3 linked regions of the Homo sapiens genome follow. The protein of the gene in region 1 purifies or fractionates together with the protein of each later gene. This does not show direct contact. Each region holds a gene or a part of one and is shown in the gene's direction. Other genes may lie near its edges.

The links.
Region 2: the proteins of NBDY (region 1) and SEMA7A fractionate together in Homo sapiens (co-fractionation; one large-scale study listed by BioGRID). This does not show direct contact.
Region 3: the proteins of NBDY (region 1) and FAM185A fractionate together in Homo sapiens (co-fractionation; one large-scale study listed by BioGRID). This does not show direct contact.

Annotation. Positions count from the first base shown.
Region 1 is NC_000023.11:56,731,450-56,735,104, forward strand, and holds part of NBDY (negative regulator of P-body association), read left to right. Parts: intron 1-613; 3' UTR 614-750; intron 751-3,655. UniProt on the Homo sapiens protein: Promotes dispersal of P-body components and is likely to play a role in the mRNA decapping process.
Region 2 is NC_000015.10:74,420,346-74,424,000, reverse strand, and holds part of SEMA7A (semaphorin-7A isoform 1 preproprotein), read left to right. Parts: intron 1-3,273; exon of another isoform or gene 3,274-3,655. UniProt on the Homo sapiens protein: Plays an important role in integrin-mediated signaling and functions both in regulating cell migration and immune responses.
Region 3 is NC_000007.14:102,755,351-102,759,005, forward strand, and holds part of FAM185A (protein FAM185A), read left to right. Parts: exon of another isoform or gene 1-639; intron 640-2,503; coding exon 2,504-2,596; intron 2,597-3,655.

The DNA of each region.
Region 1 (3,655 bases):
AATCCCAGCTACTCGGGACGCTGAATTAGGAGAATCGCTTGAATCCAGGAGGCAGAGATTGCAGTGAGCCGAGATCATGCCACTGCACTCCAGCCTGGGCGACAGACCGGGACTCGGTGTAAAAAATAAATAAATAAATAATTTTAAAAAATAAAAAGGAAAAAGAAAAGAAAACAAAAGAACAAAACAATAAGTGCAGTAGCTACATAATTTCCCCTCCAAGTGATTCAAATCACTGATAATTGTAATAATAGCCAATATTTACTGAAGATTTATGTGCCAATTTTCTAAAGGGCTTTGCATGTTATAATTTATTTAATCACAACTCTACTAGAGAAGTTTGTATAGACCAAGGGAAGTTGTATGACTTGCCACAAGTTACACAGCAAGAAGTAGCTGAGCTGAGCTTTGAACCCAGAACACCTGATTCCAGAGTTTATGCTCTAAACTTCTATATAATACATCCCTTCTAATACTATGTATACAACTGTTTTATAGGAATAAATCATTGAAATAGAGGTATGGGAAGGATAATGATTTGAGGAGACCAAGGGACAAAGAGATGGACAAAAACAGAAAAAATGATGCCACAATATTTTTTACTATTTTTCAGTCTTTGAGTGATTGCAGTATGACTCCATTTCCCTGGTGCATTCATATAATAGTTCACCTGGTGAAAACAATGAAGATTATTTACAATGCTACCCTGCTTTTTCTGGTGTCCTGAACCTGGAAGTTGTGCTTTTTAAGGTAATCTCTTTACCAAAAATTATTAAGAGGAGGAAGAGAAAAAAAAGAGTTGGTTTTGACACATTAAAAAGTAGCCAAACAAAACTCAAAAAGATAGCAGCAAATGATAAAATTGAAACTATATTCTACATTATATGAAAACATATTCATAATAATAGTGTAATCTGAAGAAATGTTTTGTTAGATTCACTTGTACTTATAGTTTCTATTATTACTGTGAAATATATCATCTTTTTAACTACATTTTCTAATTGTTTCTAGTAAATGGGAACATGATTGATATTTTTGTATATTTATTTTATATGCTGGAGCCTTCTTAAATTCTGTTTATTCTAATAATGTATAGATTTTCTTGGATTATCTGTTAATTAATTATATTTTGAATAATGACAGTTTCTTTACAATATTTCTTTACCTTATATTACTGTGCTAGCTAGGATCTTCAGTACAAAGAGGAACAACAGCATTGGTAGAGGATTTCCTTATTTTGTTCCTAAATTCTACAAAAGTTTCACCTTTTTTAGTAGATTGTCTTTCTCAAGTTAAGGAACTTTCTTAATGTTCCTAGTTTGCTGAGAGGTTTTATTACAAATATTATGAAGTTTTTTCCCGTCTATATGTACTGCCACTTTCATATCCTTTCTTCACCATTAATATCACAGTGTGACCATGTGATAAATTACAATAATCAATTTTCTAATGTATTTCTTGCTTTTGCTTTCATCGAGCCTCGTCATTGGATATTTGGTTCCTATTTTAATCATTTTGACTTTTATTTTTATATTGAACTTTCTTCTACTTTCCTTTTATTGTTCTTTTTCTAATTTATTGAGTTGAATCTTTAGCATCTTAATTTTCAATGTTCTTCTGTAAAATAAGAATTTAGAACTATAAATTTTCTTCTACCACTTTAGAAATATTTCACAGACTTTTATATATAGTATTTTTATCATTCAATATTTATTATTTTTAAATTTCTCTTATGATTTTTTTGACCCATGGTTTGTTTTTTTTCAATTTCTAATCATATGGGATTCCTTTTTTAAAAAATATATTATGAAATCATTACATTATTCCCATTCTAGTTTAACTTTATCTTATTTTTCTTTTTTAATTTTTTTTACATCTATAGACTTTATTAGATGTTCTTTATACAGTCATCTGGTATGTATAAAGAGTGAACAATCATATAAAAGGAAATATGGTCATAACTGATTGAATTAATAAAATCCTGAAACTAAATAACTCATAATTCATTGCACAACATATATTAGGTTTCATTAGATCAGTATATAGCTTAGTAGTAAACTCTCCTGATGGCCATAAACCTCTAAGGTGTTGTCATCCTGAAAAATGAAGGAGGGGAGGGAGCTGGTGGGGTGCAGAATGGAGAAACCTTCCATAGTGCTGGTGTGATGTACCCTAAGTTGTAAAGTTATAGGGCATCGCCACCTAGTGGCAGAATTTCATGCCTTGTTCTAATTAAGGGACTTTCCTTGTTTTCCAAAGAGCAATGTGTCTTGTTCACTTTCTAACCATCCCTCTCTGATGCTGTCCTTCCTAAAATCCATGCCTCCTCCCATACAGTGTAAACCCATCTGCTTTTCATCCATCAAGCTGTCAAGGATTTGGTTATGACAATTTTTATGTTCACCTAACTTTTTAGTTCCAAGTACTTCGGTTATTTTCAAAGCTACACACAGGATGCCCATATTTTTATAACTCCATCTTATTTGTGAAGGATTATTACTTTGTGCTTTGGCCTAGTTTTTATTCTTACTGCTGAATCTTTTCATAAGTTAAAGTTATTGCAGAGTTAATGCTTTAAAAGGCAGTCCTTAGAGTAAATAGCTAAATGAAATCATTACCAAAATGTACACTTTGGATTTATTAAGATTCTAGAATTTAAAAACAGGAAAAGGTGCCATTAGTGAAAATTCCATCACTAACATTTTGGTACCACTCGTAGAGCATCACATAAATATTCAGACCGTGATAACTCAGTGCAGGAATGTTATCAAATATGTCCATGCAATCTGGAACTAGGACCAGAGTTGGCAATTGGGGGTCTGAAGGCCCAACATCCCTTACACTGCTTCCTACACCTTGACAACAGGAAGGCTGAGTGATACTAGGTAGTGCACTACAACAGTGAACATAAGCCAGCCATCTGTTTTTTGCAAAGTATAATAAAATAGAAAAACAGAACATAGACCACTTCAGAGCAAACAAACATATCCTTCTTCAAGATGTAGGAAAACCATATATTCAAAACCAATCTCAAACTTTAAACAATAAAAGATATCAAACATTTTAAACTGTACAAAGCAAATTAGCAAGATTTTAATGTTGGCAGTTTTAAAATGTCACCCATCCAAAACACAAAACAGGGAGATAACCAAGTCTTAGCTCCATCCTAATCAAAGCTGTCATGCAGATCCAGTTCCACTCTTCTCATCTCCAGCAGGTACTTCACTCAAGGAGGTAACACCCAAGGGGAGTAGATGGACCAAAAACAAGAGTGCCACATAGAAGGAAGAGAGGGGACCTTGGACTTTAGCTACTGGTTAGCTATTCAACTTTGATGATATTCAGTGTTTTCCCAAGTTATTTTTTCTCGCTTCTCATCACATAATTTACATTATGCATACTATGTGCCAGAGACTGTTTGACATGTAGTCAGTTAATTTTCACAACTGTGTAAAGTTGGTTTCTATCATTAGCTCTATCTTAGGGCCAAAGAAACTGAAGCACGGAGAGGTTAAATTGTATTCCTAAAGCACTACACAGTGAGCAAATAGATTCAGACCTGTGCAGTCTAACCCAGAATTAGCTCTGAATCACTCTACCATTCTGTCTACAGGACAACAAGCCTGTGTGTTTCAGGTACTTTCATGGTGATTTT
Region 2 (3,655 bases), on another chromosome or scaffold:
CTGTCTCGAGGCCCCACCACCTGCCCCAGCACACAGGCTCTGCCCCTGCCAGGCGACTAGCTAATCTAGAACCTAACCCTGCCTGAGAGTTGCCAGGACCCACCTGCAACCATGACCTATCCTTAGCACCGAGCCGGTGCCACCCTGGAAACCAGGCTTCTCACACCCTCTTCCTGGCCATATCAGGAGAGACAGAAACATTTGTTCCTGTATTCCCACCCCTAGTGGAAGGGTTTCCTCTACCACTCTGACATGCACGGCACCTACACTTCCACCATTAGTCACTCCTTTGGATTTAAGGCTTTGATCACTAAAGGCCCCTAGGAGATCAGGGCCTCACCTGGAAGGTGGGTGGGCGGGTGATTCCCTTTAGTTATCAGGTTAGTGACTCGGCACCTAGTGAGCAAGAGAGGGAAGGGTAGAGTAGGGATGATTCAGGGAAGTAGGGAGAGGCTGAATATACAGCTTTTTGCAAATCAGAGGCTCTCCAGGAAGCCCAGGATGTGATCCTGGAGAGAAGCAGCTGGGTAATGGGTACTGGAAACTTGGAGCTTCCCTCGCTCTGTGTCCTTGGGCCGGTGGTACAGCCTCTCTGGCCTCTGTGTCCTTCAGTTCAATGACTGTTTAGATCCTCTCCCTTCCACCTTGACATGTGGATGTGGGATTCCAAAGGGTGGAGAGGCTGCAGGCTAATTCCTAGGCATCACGTGGGCCTTCCCTCTACTCTCTTTTCCAGACACGTAGTTGGGCGAGGGTGTGAGGTAGGCCTGGCAGTGCAGGGGTGGGGGCACAACTGTGGGAGGACGCTCCTGCCAGATGTGCTGGCTCTCCAACCTGAGGTCGGCCTGCTTTCTGCTCTTTGGCCCGGGGCCTCTCTGACTGCCTGACTTAGGCATTCTCTGTGGGGGTGCCCACATTCCTGCCATTTTCAGAGCCTGACTCTCTGCCCACTTTCAAAAGGCTCCTTGAGGTTACATTCAAGGCCCACTGGGTCAGTGGGTCAGGTTGCAAGGCTGGCTTTGCCAGACCAGAGCATGGGACCCAGCCCCTTCATGGACAACAACACCTCCCACTCTGCCCTCCCCTGGAGCTGCACTCCTCTTTCACAAACAACAAGAGTATGGGGACAGCGGGCCAGACGGTGACAGCACCAGAGTGAATGAGAAGAGGAAACGTGCTCCACCAGGCAGGCCTGAGTTAGGAAATGCATGCCAGAGGCCCAGACTTGCCACAGTCGGTCAGCTGCTGGGGTGGTGATCGAGGGTAGGGTCCCTAAGGAGTCAGGCCCCATTCTTTCCAATGGGATCAGAGCCCTGTGAGCACCCGGCCCTGCGGCTGTGTCTGGTGGAGGTTATCTCCTACAACCCAGCCATCCTTGCAGCCCTCCTATCTGGCCGGAGCTGGGCCTTGCTGGCCCTGCCACCATGAGAAATGGTACTCAGGGGAACTATGGAGTCCGGCTGGGTACGGGGCAGCCTGAATGTGCTTTCTTGGTCCAGCACGAGTGAGGATTGGCTCGGAATCACATGGGGCGGGAGGTGGGTTGTCTTGTTCCTGGCCTGCCTCTGGGCTATGCCCTCCCCATATGTCCCTAGCCCCCTCCCCTACCTGAGCCCCTGGTTATTCTGGGAGCTTTTAGCTACCACTTAGCCACTAATGCGTCAGGCTGGGGAGTGAGGGGGGGACACGGTGCCAGACGGTGCTCCTTTTAGACAAGCAGGATGGGAAGCAGGGGGAGCCAGGAGGTGGGGGACGCCAGAGGATGGGGAGGCATTTTCCACTCCTGGCCCTGCTCGTAGGTTCAGGCAGCAGGGGAGAGTGGTGGGCAGTGGGTCAGTGTGTCCTTGGACAGGCTGCATCTTCCCTCCCCCATCACACGTGGGCCTCAGCTCACCTTCCCGATTCTTCTCATTAGGACTCTGCCAGGCTGCAGCGCATGGCCTCTGTCCTCCATACAGCCACCTTCCCCACCTTTGCTCAGGTTGCGTCCTCTGCCTGGCTTTCCCTCCCGGCCTGTTCAGGGCCCATCCAGCTTTTATCTACCTCACCTCTCCGTTTGGGTTCATAAAGCATCACAAAGAAAATGTTCAGGGATATGATACATACTCCCTTGGCCTGGCCTTTTTAGGGGTAGCCCCTGGCCTTGCTCAGCCCCTGCCTGGGCAGAGACTCGAGGCCTGGCCCTGATGGCTTGGTGCTGCCTTCACTTCCAGGCAGCCCTCCTGCCCCTTAGCCCCCAGCCCCCGCTCCTGCCAACCTGAACAAAGCTTCCTTTCATGTATTCATCGAGCTGCTGCTGCTCGACACTTCCCGGGCACAATCAGGCCTTTTGAGGGCCTCAGGCGGTGCGGGAGCCCAGGCTGGGGCTGGGGTGGAGAATGGGCCAAGGCCTTGTCCTGGGGCTGAGCTGGTGTCATTCCCTCTAGTCCATACGCATCACCAAGAACAGAGGTGGGAGGGCCAGGAACCTGGGGGTCATGGGAGGCCGTGGTCCTGGGCTCCTGTTCGTTTTCCTGCAAAATGGGACGAACAGTCCCTGCTTCCTCCACCCTAGCCATTGTGGCTAGGGTTTGAAGGGAACTGGGCTCAGGCTTGCAGATCCGCATGGGATTGTCCGGGCCCTAGTGCTGCAGCTCCTACCCAGGGGCCAGCAGCCCTCACCCTCCCTTCATGTCTTCAGCAGATACTTTGTGGGCAGCCCTGGGGTCCATGCTAAGACAGTTTTGCTGGAGAGCTGTGGAAGTTTTCTGTGGTGTGGCTGTCTGACCCCTCAGATGTATTCCCAGGGTAGGGCCAGACCTCCCCCTCAGACCTTGCTCTCCAGGACCCAGTCATGTCTCTGCCATCAGGCTCGACTCCCCAGGGCAGGACTGTTTTCCTCTTCTCTTCAACAGCCCTGCAATTCCTAGACCAGGGTGCCCCCACCCAGAGTCCTGTCTGGTGCCTCTTTTCCCTTGAGTAGTTGTACATTGGCCTTGCCGGCCCCCTCGGAGACCTGGGCCTGTGGCCTTGGTGCAGGAGTGGGGCTAAGGTGACTGATGAAGGTGGCTAGCACAGTCTGACGGCTAGAACTTTTCTGCTTTGACTCCCAGGGACTATGGATCTCAGGTCCTAGCCCAGCATCTCTAGATGCAGACACGCACCTTTTCCTGGCTGCCAGTCTGGCTATCGGTGGATGGGAGGGGAGCAGGAGGGGAGTTGGGGCGGCAGACTGTCTGGATCTCTGGCTGGGCCACAGAGGATGGTGGCTGCAGTTTGGGCTGCGGGTGGAAGGGGAGTTACGGGAGCTGAGTCAGGAAGACTGTGTCTGTGACCCCAGCACTCTAATTTTATCCCAGGAAGGGAGGGGGAGCAGGGCAGCACCCAAGACCTGCCAGCTCTCCCTCCCTCCCACCGAAGTGCCAGTACCTCTCAGCCCTTGCTCTGCACATCTCGGGCCTACAGGGAGGGAGGCTTGGGGGCCAGGGAGGGCTGATATCCCCGGAGCTGTTCAGTTGGGCTGTTTGTGATGTGCACCAGGAGAGCCACACCACCCAAGGACAGTGAGCTCAGCACTTCTCTCTGTAGCCTGCCATGCTGCTGAGAACTGATACTGCAGCCTGGGACAAGCTAATGTGTCCTGCCTGCTGGTGTGACCTTGGCATGTCTCCCAGGG
Region 3 (3,655 bases), on another chromosome or scaffold:
TACTCTATAAGCAGCTGAAAGTGCCTCCTGCGATTAACCAGTTCACCCAGGCCCTGGAAGGCCAAACAGCTACTCAGCTGCTTAAGCTGGCCCACAAATACAGACCAGAGACAAAGCAAGAGAAGAAGCGGAGGCTGTTGGCCCAGGCAGAGTTGTGGGCAAAGGGGACCTCCCCATTAAGAGACCACCTGTCTTTCGAGCAGGAGTTAACACCATCACCACCTTTGTGGATAACAAGAAAGCTCCGCTGGTGGTGACTGCACACGACATGGATCCCATTGAGCTGACTGTTTTCCTGCCTGTCCTGTGTCATAAAATGGGAGCCACTTGCTGCATTATCAAGGGGAAGGCAAGACTGGGATGTCTAGTTCACAGGAAGACCTACACCACTGTCGACTTCACACAGGTTAACTCAGAAGACAAAGGAGCTTTGGCTAAGCTGATGGAAGCTATCGGGACCAATTACAATGCCAGATACGATGAGACCCACTGTCACTGGGACGGCAATGTCCTGGGTCCCAAGTCTGTGGCTCACATTGCCAAGCTCGAAAAGGCAAAGGCTAAAGAACTTGCCACTAAACTGGGTTAAATGTACACTGTTGTGTTTTCTGTACATAAAAATAATTAAAATAATTAAAAAATAAAAAAAAGTGCTTTGTGGATAGTCTTTTCAAAGGTTTATCACATATTTGATAAGGAGTATATTAAATATAATTTGACTTCAGACTCATGTCTCTGGGCATAACGTAGTTAACCATGCTATAGTACAGATTTTTTTTCTCTAAGAGACAGGGTCTTGATGTGTTGCCCACGCCGGAGTGCAGTAGCACGATCCTAGCTCACTGAATCCTCAAACATCTGGGCTCAAGTGATCCATATCTCTTTATGTAACAAAACTAAAGACGTATATAATGATTAAGGGAAAACATCTGGGCTCAAGTGATCCATATCTCTTTATGTAATAAAACTAAAGACATATATAATGATTAAGGGAAAATAAACTACTCTAAAAAAAAATCAGACTAGGCCGGGTGCAGTGGCTCATGCCTGTAATCCCAGCACTTTGGAAGGCTGAGGCGGGTGGATCACGAGGTCAAGAGATCGAGACTATCCTGGCCAACACGGTGAAACCCCATCTCTACTAAAAATACAAAAAATTAGCCTGGCGTGATGGCATACGCTTGTAGTCCCAGCTACGTGGGAGGCTGAGGCAGGAGAATCGCTTGAACCCAGGAGGTGGAGCTTGCAGTGAGCCGAGATCTCACCACTGCACTTCAGCCTGGGCGACAGAGCGAGACTCTGTCTAAAAACAAAAACAAAAAACAATAGACCAAACATCTAATGGCTCATATATAATATGAGTTTATTTCTTACTTGTGTCCAGGTGTATGGGTGGGTCTTTTTCATTCAGTGATTCTAGGTTCCTTCCGTCTTCCGGCTCTGCCATCTTTTAGAGCCTTGTTATATTCTGGACCCACTTGGTGGAATGAGAAGAGCACAGAGAAGGCACACTTGTTCTAAAAGCACCAACCTGGAAATGGCATATAGCATTTCCACTTACGTTATGTTGGTAACAACTTAACAACACCTAAGAGGTAAAGGAAGCTGGAAAATGTGGTCTTGCCATGGGTCAAGCTATACTGCTTTTACTTTGGAAAAAAATGGATTTTGATGAGCCAATAGTAGTGTTTGCCATAGTTCTCAAGTCCAAAATCAAGTCACTCACACACACACACATACACATACTTTTGTTTTCTGTCTTGCAGAATAGGCTAACTGGCTTGTGACTGCTGTTTTGTGCTCGGAGGCATTTTTACTTAGTTTCTGGGATGTGTTGTGCTAGAAGGTTTAAGTGGGCTGTTAACCTAATGTGTATTCTGTCCTTCAGACCGGTCCAGCGTTAAGAGTGTGGGCTTTGGAATCATACAGAACTTGATTCTAATTGTTACTTTAGATTTTGGGTTTTTTTCTGTGTCACCCTGATAAAGTGATTTACCTTTCTGAATCTTGGCATTCTTCCTCTGTAAAATGGGAAAAATGTAATACTTATCTCTCTGGTTTGTCGTGAGGATTAAATGATAGTTCATGTGAAGTAGCTAACATGGTATCTGGTGCAGAGAAAATGCCAAATAAGTGATAACTATTATTGTTATTAATGATGAATAGTAACTGATTATTATTGTCATCTTCATCACTGTGGATATTTAGTTAGCTGGTCACAGTGATTTTTGATTCCCAAGTCCTTCATCAGTGAAGCTACCAGAATACCCAAGTATCTCTTGTTTTTCCCTTAGAGTCCAAGTGGCTTATTTAATCCCTTTAACAGCAGTTGACATTTTTTTCCAGTTGATGTCATTATTCGAAGCAGTGAGTTTCTATTTCATTCCTTATTGTTCTTTTGTTGCTTTGTCAGTATTAATACAGAAATATTGAAAATGTTTCACTAGTATAAGTCACACTTACTCTCTTTTTCACTATATGTATTTTTAAATTTGTCTTTCAGGGTCAAAAATTGCATGTTCAAACAAAAGGAGGCAAAGTGATCTGTCTGGGAACAGTTTATGGAAATATAGATATTCATGCATCAGATAAAAGTGTAAGATTGAAACTTTCTTTTTTTTTTTAGTAATTGCAACTTTGCTTCCATTTGGCTCACCAAGTTGGTAGGTTCTACAAAGTTCGTAGCATAACATTCCCTTTTTAATGCATTTTAGTTCATAAGTAAATTCAAATTTGAAATTGAAGTGATGAAATAATATACAACTTAAGTTTTAGTTTGTGGTTTAATACTTTTGACAGTTACTTAGTTCCTAGTCTGGAATCAATAAAAACTTAAATGCTTACTATTTAACTCTAGTTCTGAAAAGATTTTTATTTTTATCATCATAGATTAAAATAGATGATTAAGTAATATCACCAGTAACTGGATTGGATTTTTCTTGTGTTAGGTTTATTTGAGTATTTTCTAAGACCTTTTTACTTCGCCCTTAGGCAAATTGAAGGATGTTTCAAAACTCAGCTTTCTTCAGTATTTTCCACAAGGTGGCACCATTAGATAGCTTTACTGCTCTCACAGCTTTTTTTTTTTTTTTTTTTTTTTTTTTTTTTTATAGTAGCTATTGGGATTTTTGTTGTTATAGGAAGATAGTTGGTATTTTTTAATCAACTCCTTTTGTAGCTTTTGGTTATTTAGCATAGTATTAAGAGTAAAGGTATAATTTTGGAATTATAAATTGTCATTTAAAAAATGTGATTGATAATGTATCTTTGAGAAAAAGTTTCCTTTTATTTTACACTTATACAATTTGCAAGAGCTTTTTTGTTTCTTATAAATTTGCTAAATTCCATAGTCAGCTTTATTTTCAGATAATTGGTGGGGAGGAGTTGCAAGCATATTTTGTATGTAGATTATTGTTGGCATAATTAAACAAGATAGACTATAACAGTAATTGTTTCTGTTGTTTTATCTTCCATCACCTTCCTACAAATTTGCTATATTCCATGGTCACTTTATTTTCAGAGTTGGTGGGGAGGAGTTGTGAGCACATTTTATATGTAGATTATTGTTGGCATAATTAAACAAGGTAGGTTATAACAGTAATTGTTTCTGTTGTTTTATCTTCCATCACCTTTCTCTTAGACCCCGTGGGAGGTT